Linked DNA regions of Homo sapiens: region 2 is linked to region 1. Evidence: fine-mapped QTL for protein levels in blood plasma. A gene starts in region 1. The other region holds a variant in brackets. All regions are shown on one strand. Distances are between the middles of the regions.

The links. A credible set is the group of variants that fine-mapping cannot tell apart. PIP is the chance, under the fine-mapping model, that this variant and not a neighbour inherited with it causes the effect. The UK Biobank Pharma Proteomics Project read protein levels with antibody pairs (Olink). The fine-mapping took linkage between variants from a reference panel, not from the people measured, so its PIPs are less certain.
Region 2: its variant is the best candidate, but not a certain one, in a credible set for the plasma level of the KLRF1 protein (UK Biobank, PIP 0.69).

What each region holds. Positions count from the first base shown.
Region 1 is chr12:9,824,172-9,829,564 of GRCh38, reverse strand. KLRF1 (killer cell lectin like receptor F1) reads right to left here and starts at 2,084. Exons shown (of 6, transcript NM_016523.3): 1 at 1,936-2,084. The coding sequence starts at 2,020.
Region 2 is chr12:9,814,168-9,819,560 of GRCh38, reverse strand. It overlaps a transcript of KLRF1 not described here and the pseudogene GCNAP1. Among named protein-coding and RNA genes, the nearest start is that of KLRF1, 11 kb to the left of the region's middle. The variant T/C (reference allele first, on the strand shown) is at 2,095.

The sequences.
Region 1 (5,393 bases):
CCCAGGCAGGTCTTGAACTCCTGGCCTCAAGCGATCATCCTGCCTCGGCCTTCCAAAGTGCTGGGATTAATGGCATGAGCCACCACACTTGGCCCCTCATTATATAAGTTTGACTGAAAATATGTAAATGTTTTATGCTACTATAAAGTAAGTTAAACAAAAATGAAAAAAAATCCATAAAAAATGAAGAAAAGGAATCTAACTAGGTATTGTTAGTGTCTTCACTATAGAGAGAGGAATTACTTAAAGTGATTTTAAAACATTTAACTGTGCATGCTCAATGGAATATATCTTAAGGATTTTTTAAAACCGCAAAACATTTTAATCTGTTTTAAGTAACTATTATTATAATATTATTTCTATAGTGATTCTGAAACTACTACATATGTATAGTGGGATAGAGCAATTATGTAATTTCTTACTATCACTGGCAACAAAGGTTTTTCAATATATGAGAAAAGATTTACAAATATGTCATCACAAAATTAAGTTAAATGAATGAACATCATAACCCCAAGGCTCACATTGTCAATCTAATTCACATAAAATACGTCTTACCTCAAGCTTTAATAAATATTAGCTAAAGGTACAAGACATAAATATTAGTATGTGTCACTTAAATATCTGGGAGCCGAAAATCTGCACATTTTTGCTTCAGAGAGACATTTATGAACAGAGTGTGGAAAAAAGTCTGCAGAGAAGTCACTACATGTTGTAGTCTTTCAGGTTTAATATCTCTAATTTCCAAAAATGAAATAAAAATTGAGTGTAGGAAGTAAAGACTTGAAAATATGGGAATCTAAAAATTCACATGGAAGAGGCAATAAATTTCTTATACATAGCACGTATGTAACTCTAAGATGAATCACTGATGGATGATACTTGTGGAAGGACTCAAGAGATAAGTAAAATTTTCATGGGTGAAGTTATTAAAAGAGAAATATTTAGAAAGCAACAGAACAGAACAGACAGTCTCTATAACTGTGATTATTTGTGTCTTTAATTTCTGCTTATCTCTTTTGCCAAATCACATTAAGGTGGCATGATGGAATTGCATTGTGTATGGAGGGTATGCTTGAAGTAGCAAATTAAAATGTTGATTGCTGGTGTATAAACTTTATTTTGAGTCAACTTGGTGAAAAGCATAAAGTTTTTGAGAAGTTGAATTAAAAATTAGTATTAAAGGCTGGGCGCGGTGGCTCATGCCTATAATCCCAACACTTTGGAAGACTCAGGTGGGTGGATCACCTGAGGTCAGGAGTTCAAGACCAGCCTGGCCAACATGGTAAAACCCCATCTCTACTAAAAACGCAAAAAATTAGCCAGGCATGGTGGCGGGCACCTATAATCTCAGCTACTCAGGAGGCTGAGGCAGGAGAATTGCTTGAACCTGGGAGGCAGAGGTTGCAGTGAGCCGAGATCATGCCATTGCACTCCAGCCTGGGCAACAACAGTGAAACTCCGTCTCAAAAAAAAAAAATAGCATTAAAACACCATATTCTATGAATGATAAGGAGGTGAATGGCAGCAAATATTCACTAATTTGAAATTATTAATTTTAATTGAGTATGCATATTTCCTCAGAGAATGTCCTTAAGAAATTATATCAGACAAAATATTACAAGTAAGTGTTAGTTCCACATTGATAAATGGGAGAGAGAGAGATTATCTCATAGTAAATTTGTAAGATTAAATGAAGGAACATAGATAAAACATTCTGTATAGTGCCGGAAACTGGTGTTTCTTAAATGGTAAGAGAGGTTGTTATTTTTAAATCATTATTAATATTGAAAGAGAGGACAGGTGAGAGAGATACAGAGACGGAGAAAGAAAAGCACCCAAATACTGAAACAGTCCAATAACACAATGGAACAGGATACGGGAAACTACCATGTTAATTCACACCAATTGAAAAAATGAAATTAAATTCCATACCTTTAAATGTAAGTTGAGATGTTTGGGCAGAACTCCTTTTCTTTGACTGTACATTCAATGTCATGTATCTTTCTTCATCTTGCATCTTCAATGTGAGTGAATGTGTGTGTATACAGGTATGTTTTGTTTTATTAAGTATAACATGAAATGAGGAAAGAATAATAAATCTGCTGCTAATCAGAGATGCTCCTCAAATTGTCCTTTCACAGTACATATGAGGGTTCACAGTTTCACTTATTTGTGAAAACCTCAGAGGAAATGTTTTCTTTTTAAAAGTTGCTTTCCCATGACATAGATAACACATAATTTCTCAACTGTCCACCACATATTGAATTGAATATTCTTTTGAGTGCTTTACAAATTTCTCTTAATTTACCCTTAAAGTCAAGGGAATGGAAATTATGCCCCTTTTTGAGGTGAGGTTAATAATATATAGCTGCCTTTTGTTATAGCCTAAATATTTATATCATTTGAATTAGCCTCCCTAACATATTGATATTTAATTTAATAATTTGCAATTGCCAAGCAATTAAATTCTTTATCCTAAAACAATATTGTTTATAAATCATGCTAATAATTTAACAGTATAATTTGATTTTTTTTAACTTTTAGGTTCAGGGCTACATGTGTAGGTTTGTTATATAGGTAAAATCATGTCACAGGGGTTTGTTGTACATATTATTTCATCACCCAGGTATTCAGACTAGTACTACATAGTTATGTTTTTCTGATCCTGCCCCTCCTCTCACCCTCCACCTTCAAGTAGGCTCCGGTGTCTGTCATTCTCCTCTATGTGTACATGTGTTCTCATCATTTAGATCCCAATTATTAGTGAGAACATGTGGTATTTGGTTTTCTGTTCCTCCATTAGTTTGTTAAGGGTAACGGCCTCTAGCTTCATCTATGTTCCTGCAATGGACATCATCTCATTCTTTTTTATAGCTGCATAGTATTCCTTTGTATATGTGTATCACATTTTCTTTATCCAGTCTACCATTGATGGGCATTTAGGTTGATTGCATGTCTTTGCTATTGTCAACAGTGCTGCCATGAACAGATGCATGCATGTGTCTTTATGATAGATTTATATTCCTTTGGGTATATACCAGTAATGGGATTGCTGGGTCAAATTTCTGGTTTTAGGTCTTTAAGGAATCACCATGCTATCTTTCATAATGGTTGAACTAATTTACACTCCCATCAAAGGTGTATAAGTGAACCCTTTTCTCCACTACCTCATCAGCATCTGTTATTTTTTGACTTTTTAATAATAGCCATTCGACTGGTATGAGATGGTATCTTACTGTGGTTTTAATTTGCATTTCCCTAATGATTAGTGCCTACTGGAGGATAGAGGGTGGGAAGAGGGAAAGGATCAGGAAAAATAACTAATGGGTACTAGGGTTAATACCTGGGTGAAGAAATAATCTTTACAGCAAACCCCCATTACACAAGTTTACCTATGTAACAAATTTGCACATGTACTCCCAAATTTAAAATAAAATTTTAAAAACACAATATACCCTTTTAAATAAGATAAACTATTAATTCAAGGAGAAAATATTTGACAAATTATCAGAAATATATTTGTTGCTTAATGACAAAAGTAAAAGGATAATACATTTTTGTGTTATTTTTGTTTATTTTTACTTGCTAAATTTTGTTCTTTAATTTATAATTACAATTTCTTTGGCCATTATTTGACACTCCAAATGGATAAGAAGTAAATTAAGATTGATAAATAAAACACGAAAAGTATCTGTTCATGTCCTTAGTCCACTTTTTAATGGGGTTGTTTATTTTTTGCTTGTTGATTGGTTTAAGTTTCTTACAGATGCTGGATATTAGACCTTTGTCAAATGCATAGTCTGCAAAAATTTTCTCCCATTCTGTAGATTATCTGTTCACTCTGTTGATAGTTTCTCTTGCTGTGCAGAAGCTCTTACAGTTAATTATTTTGTTTGTTTGTTTTGTTTTGTTTCACTTTTGTTGCAATTGCTTTTGGCATCTTTGTCATGAAATATTTGCCCATTCCTGTGTCCAGGATGGTAATTCCTAGGTTATCTTCCAGGGTTTTTTATATTTTGGGGTTTTAGACATAAGTATTTTATCCATCTTGAGTTGAGCTTTGTATATGGTATAAGGAAGGGGTCCACTTTCAATCTTCAGCATGTGGCTAGCCAGTTATCTCAGCACCATTTATTAAAAAGGGAATCCTTTTCCCATGGCTTGTTTTTGTCAGCTTTGCTGAAGATCAGATGGGTGTAGTTGTGCAGCACTATTTCTGGGCTTTCTGTCCAGTGGTCTATGTGTCTGCATTAGACCATTGTGTTCCAATGGTCTATGTGTCTGCTTTTTTTTTTTTTTTTACCAGTACCTTGTTATTTTGGATATTGTAGTACTGTAGTATAATTTGAAGTTGGGCAATGTGATGCCTCCAGTGTTGTTCTTTTTGCTTAGGATTGCCTTGGCTATTTGGGCTAATTTTTCTGTTCCAGATGAATTTTAAAATAGTTTTCTTCTAGTTCTGTGAAGAATGTCATTGGTAGTATGATAGGAATAGCATTAAATCTGTAAATTGCTTTGGGCAATATGACCATTTTAATGATATTTATTATTCTGATCCATGAGCATGGAATGTTTTTCATTTGTTTGTGTCATCTCTGATTTCTTTAAGCAATGTTTTGTAATTATCCTTGTAGAGCTCTTTCACCTCCCTGGTTGACTGTATTCCTATGTATTTTATTGTTTTTGTGGCTATCATAAATGGAATTGCATTCCTGATTTGGCTGTCAGCTTGGGTGTTGTGTATAGGTGTACAGGAATGTTGGTGATTTTTGTATGTTGATTTTGTATCCTGAAACTTTGCTGATGTTGTTTATCAGTTGAAGGAGCTTTTTGGCCAAGAGTATGGGGTTTTCTAGGTATATAATCATATGGTCTGAAAACAGGAATAGTTTTACGTCCTCTCTTCCTATTTGGATGCCCTTCATTTCTTTCTCTCACCTGATTGCTCTGGCAAGGATTTCCAATACTATGTTGAATAGGAATGTTGAGAGTGGGCATTCGTGTCTTGTGCTTTTCAAGGGGAATGCTTCCAGCTTTCACCTGTTCAGGATAATGTTGGCTGTGGGCTTATTACAGCTGGCTCTTATTATTTTGAGATGTTTCTGCAATACATAGTTTATTGAGTGATTTTAACATGAAAGCGTGTTGGTTTTATTGAAACCTCTTACTGTTTCTATTGAAATAATCATGTGATTTTTGTGTTTAGTTCTGTTTATGAAATGAGTCATATTTATTGAGTTGTGTATGTTGAACCAACCTTGCATCCCAGAGATAATGTCCACTTGATCATGGTGAATTAGCTCTTTGAGTGGTGCTGGATTCAGTTTGTCAGTATTTTGTTGAGAATTTTTGCATCTATGTTTTTCAAGGATGCCGGCCTCGAGTTTTCT
Region 2 (5,393 bases), 10 kb after region 1:
TCCAAGACCCACGTGAAAAAAACAGTCTGGCAGCCTCCCTGTAGAGCAGCTGTGCTATTTTGGGGGCTTCTCCAATCCTTAGTCACCTTGGATTTTGGCAACAATGGCTAAGGCTGCAAAACAGCAAAAATGATGTCCAGCCCCTCCTTCTGAGAGATTCATCTCAGGGGAGGTATAACCTTGCTACCAGTGGCTGGCTGGAGTTCCAAGCCAGAGGGTCTTATCCTGTGAGGTGCCATGGAAGCAGGGCCTGCGGACAATCCCTGCTCAGCCCCTTGGATTCAGCCCCTTTCCTAGGGATGTAGAGATGTCTAAATTCCCAGCCACTTTTGCTGGGAAGCCCTGGTATCTAAGGCTCCCAGGGCTCTGCGTGTGCCTGAGAGGCTACTCTTCCAGGACTCCCTGTAGCTCTGTGTGTCAGACTGCAGGCCTTTGTGGGATGGGTTCACAAGGGGATCTCCTGACCCAAGGGTTGCAAAGATCCATGGGAGAATTGTGCTCCCCCAGGTGCTCAGTCACTCACTGCTTCCCTGGGTGGGGAAGGCTCCCCTGGCTCCATGTTGCTCCCGGGTGGGCAGTCGTCCTGCCTTGCTTTACTTCATCCTCCACGGATTGAGTTGTTTTCTTGATGAATCCCAATGTGTGTAACTGGATGCTTCAGTTGAAGGTGCTGTATTTACTAGCCCCTTCTATTTCTCCTGTGAGAACAGCACACACTAGCTGCTTCTAGTTGGCTACCTGCACTTGCTCAATATTATAACTTGAAGAAGACAAAAAAATACTGACAATTTTTTTGGCATTCTAAGACTAATTCTAAATACAAAAATAAATAAATAAAAGCAAAATTTAGGGGGAAAACATTTTCATTTTGGCATGGACTATGCCTGGAACCAGGAGATTTACCAGCCAGTCACCTAAGGGCAGATTTATTACTTAAGTCTCTTTAATCTTGGACTAGATGCTGCTTGGTCTTCATAGGAACAATCACATATTTTAGGAACAGATTTGCCTTCTATGCCTACAGTGCTTCTACTAACATCAATACTTAAGAGTTACAGAATGTCTTATCCATTGTCATGGTTCCTCACACAATATTGTATTTGACATTTTACAACAAAGAAAGATTGACAATCAGTTCATGCCTATAGAAGTTACTTGCCCAGTTGCTCAGGATCTCACACACATTCCATGGGCAGTTGGAGGTGAGCTGCCGCTGGCCACACCAGAGGCTGCAAGACCAGACATGGACAGGTACAAAGAAGAGCTGTGCCACTTGCACAACCCAGAGGAGAATTGATACATCCTTAACGTTGATTCAAGCAGTGATGAGAACCACGGGTCTTCTATGGCCAGAAGAGCTCAGAAGAGACAGTCCAGCTCTATGGTAGTGATCAACTCTGACTCTGATGATGAATGCTACTCCTATGAGGAGAAGAAAGCTAAGATATTCTAAATAAGCAGTGACGATGAGAGTCTGGAGTGTTGTTATGTGCAGCCCACCATCCAGGAACCCTCCAATAGTTATTAGTGATGGTGATGATGACAATGATGACAGTAATGATTTGGAAGTTTCTGTGCCAGCAGAAGATTCGTATGATGAGGACCAAACTGCCTCAGATGAAGAAGAGCTGGATGAGGCTGCTGTCTGCCAGCATGATTCATCTGATGATGCTGGTTGAGCATGATCTTGGTGAGAATCTTAGTGAACCACCAGGTGATCCTGAGACTAAACTTGAGGTTTCAGAGAGGAAGCTGCCAACTGAGGAAGTGCCTGCACCTGTGGTGGAATAATCAAGGAAAAGGAAGGCAAAGACCAAAAAATATCATGGGGTGACTGAGGAAAAGACAGGCAAAGACCAAAAATATAGTGGAGCCACTGAGGAAGAGGAAGGCAAAGACCAAAAATGTATCTGTAACACCTGCTGGTAAGGGACAGAAAAACCGTGGACCTTCAAAGAAGAAACCCGGTGTGGCCAAAGTTGAAAAATGCAAGACTAGGACTCATAAGCGCAAAGTCCCTGGATGTTTCTTGCTTGACCTTGAAAAGTCAAAACAGTACTCTGGAAAAAAATCTCAAGCGAAATAAGGATGAAC[T/C]GGTTCAGAGAATCTACGACCTGTTTAACAGCTCCGTCTGTGATAAAAAGCTACCAGAGAAACTAGAGATCAGCTAGAATAAAAAGATGCTGAGAACTGCTGGCTTATGCAGCACTGGCAGGAATTACAAAGCAAGGCAGAATTCTTAAGGTTATCTGAGAGTATATTCGTGTGAGCTAAATCCTTTACTGGTAAGAAGTGTTAGAAAAGTTTGTTTTTGTGAAATTAAGGATATTAGAATTTAGATACTGTTAAGTAATATTAGAATTTAACATTCATGTTATTAACCATGATTGACCTTAACAAGGGGCTCTATTGCTAACCATTCTGTGCCCTTGACAGGGTAGATCTGAAGCCCTTGGGATCTACCTTGGGTCTTACTTCAGCTCAATAGTTTTCACACGTAGGACAAAATGCAAAAGAAAAGTGAGTTTTCAATAGTGGCAGGTTGAGAGAAAGAAGAGAATGCTGGATGGGAGGCTGAGGCGGGCGGATCACGAGGTCAGCAGATCGAGACCACCCTGGCTAACACGGTGAAACCCCATCTCTAATAAAAATACAAAAGAAAAAAAAATATTAGCCGGGCATGGTGTTGGGCCCAGCTACTTGGAAGGCTGAGGCAGGAGAATGGCGTGAACCTGAGAGGCGGAGATTGCAGTGAGCCGAGATCGCGCCACTGCACTCCAGCCTGGGAGACAGAGTGAGACTCCGTCTCAAAAAAAAAAAAAAAAAAGAAGAGAATGCTGGAAAGAGGACAAGTTTTAGAGGCAACACTTAAAAACCAGGGCTACTGTGACATCTACCTAGACAGGAAAGATGAACATGTTTCATGAAGTTCATTGCTGATGACACTGAATGAAACTATCTGAGCCATGTAATCAAAAAATAGAATGTTTTCTGCATCTCAAAAAAAAAAAAAGAAGTTACTTGCCCCTAAGTAACTGGCTAACCAGGGTATTGAAATGACTTCCTGAAAGCACACTAATGACACCAGTTGGAATAAAACAGCTTGCAAGTGTGGGATTCAGTTTTTTAAGAGGGGGTATTTGCCTTACCAATATATGTTGCTGTCTCTGCCATAGCCAGAATGTACAGGTATGGGAACAAAAGCATAGAGTTAGGATTCAGATTTGGAGTAGCCTTGTACTAGTACACCTAATAATTCACTTGAAAATTGTCTCCTTTTCCCAAGATCTTGTTTGTGCTGGGTTTAGAGGTTCTAATGCCTATGGCAAGATTATTCTAATAAGGAATATGACCATTATCCTGATGAACAGGAAGATGAGACTTCCTTGTTGCACGTTGGGCTCCGCAGTCATTGAAGCAGCTGGCAGAGAAGAAGATTGCTGTGGCCAGGCGCAGTGGCTCACAGTTTAATCTCAGCACTTTGGGAGGCCGAGGCGGGCAGATCACCTGAGATCAGGAGTTCGAGACCAGCCTGACCAACCTGGAGAAACCCCATCTCTACTAAAAATACAAAATCAGCTAGGCGTGGTGGCGTGTGCCTGTAATCCCAGCTATTCAGGAGGCTGAAGCAGGAGAATCACTTGAATCCAGGAGGCGGAGGTTTCAGTGAGCTGAGATCACGCCATTGCACTCCAGCCTGGGCAACAAGAGTGAAACTCCATCTCAAAAGAAGAAGAATAAGAAGAGGAATAAGAAGCAGCAGCAGCCGCAGCAGCCATACAGGCAGAAATTGGGTTGCTCTTACACATTGTGGTAAGGACTATGCCTGGAAGCCAGGAGATTTACAGGAGCGTATTTTAGCACCACTTTCCTCATAGTCTTGGTAAATACAATGCTAGGCCAACCCAAGAAACACACCAATAACTTGGATCCAATATAATGATAATCTAGGTCATTGCTTGATCCACACACTTTGTACAATTAGCTGGACAGAGTCAAAGAAAAGAAAGATGGAGTGCGTAGCAAGCTATACCTTGTCTCCTGCTACTCAAGTGGTATCTGCTGACAGAGAAATAGACCTCAACCACACAAAAAATCCACAGAAGTCCATCTGCGGCTCAGATAGAATCATCCTGGATATAGATAGCTCCTATCCCAGAGTCCTCTTGTCAAATCTTCTCTCAGAAGTTAGTGTAGAAATGATTAATCAAACCATAGCATGTTGAGACATTTCTGTTACTTCCACAAATAAATTTTGAATTCATTGAAATAACTGGCTTTTTACATTTAAGCTAGAAAGTAGTATATTAGAAAATAGGTAGGATTTGCCTTGTCAAGTTAATTTGAAGGTGCAATTTCTATAGTTCTTGTTATCATCATGATTTATAAGAAAAGTATTCTTGTTTCATTTTATTTCTTTTTTATATTCTTATTGGTACATAATATTTTCATGTATCTCTAAGGTACATGTCATATTTTGATACATGCATCGGTTGTGTAATTATCAAGTCAGGGTGTTTAGGATATCCATCACCTCAAGCATTTATTATTTCTTTGTGTTGGGAACACTTCAAATCTTCTCATAACTATTTTGAAATATAAAATACATCGTCGTTAACTATAGTCACTCTACTATTCTGTTGAACACTAGAACTTATTCCTTCTAATTGTATGTTTGCATACCTCCCCCCTCCCACACACACACACACACATCCTTCACAGCTGCTAGTAACTATCATTCTACTCTTTACCTCCATTACAATAACCTTTTATGGTGGCAGCAAAGGGTGGGCTGGGCGGGCAGCCCTCGGGCCCCCAAAGGAGTGCAGATGTCAGCGGTGGTGGAAAGGCGGTCCCCAGGCCACTGAATGATGCACTTGGGCACTTGTGGGCCGTACCAGGCTTTGCGGGTCCAACCTCAGGCCTCCTGATGGTGCACACAGGCTGTGGTAGGTGGGGCTTGCGAGCAGCCAGGCTGGGTCTTCAGTCAGGCCTCCTGATGGTGCAGGAGCATACGCGGAGCTACGGGTGGGACAGGGCCATGGATCCCCAGGCCCCTGGGCAGTGTGCTCAGGCACTGGGAGAGGCTTTGCTTGGTGGTGTGGTCCTACCCTCAGACAACCCAATCCCCTATGTTGTGCTCAGGGCTCAGGCTGTGGTTGGCAGAGTGGGCAATCCCCAGGCGCCTCCCAGCGGCGTGCTTGGGTGGTGGCAGTCCCGGCTGTGGAGATGGCAGTGGGTGGAGAAAGCCTGTCGGTGCGCAGCTGCTTTGCTATTGGGAGTCGGGGTGGCTGTCAGTGGCAGCGACCTCACTCAAGTGGCTGTCAGGCTCTGGGGAGCTTGCGTTTTGGCTCCCTTTGACTGGAGGCAGCCTCCCCAGTGCACTGCACTGC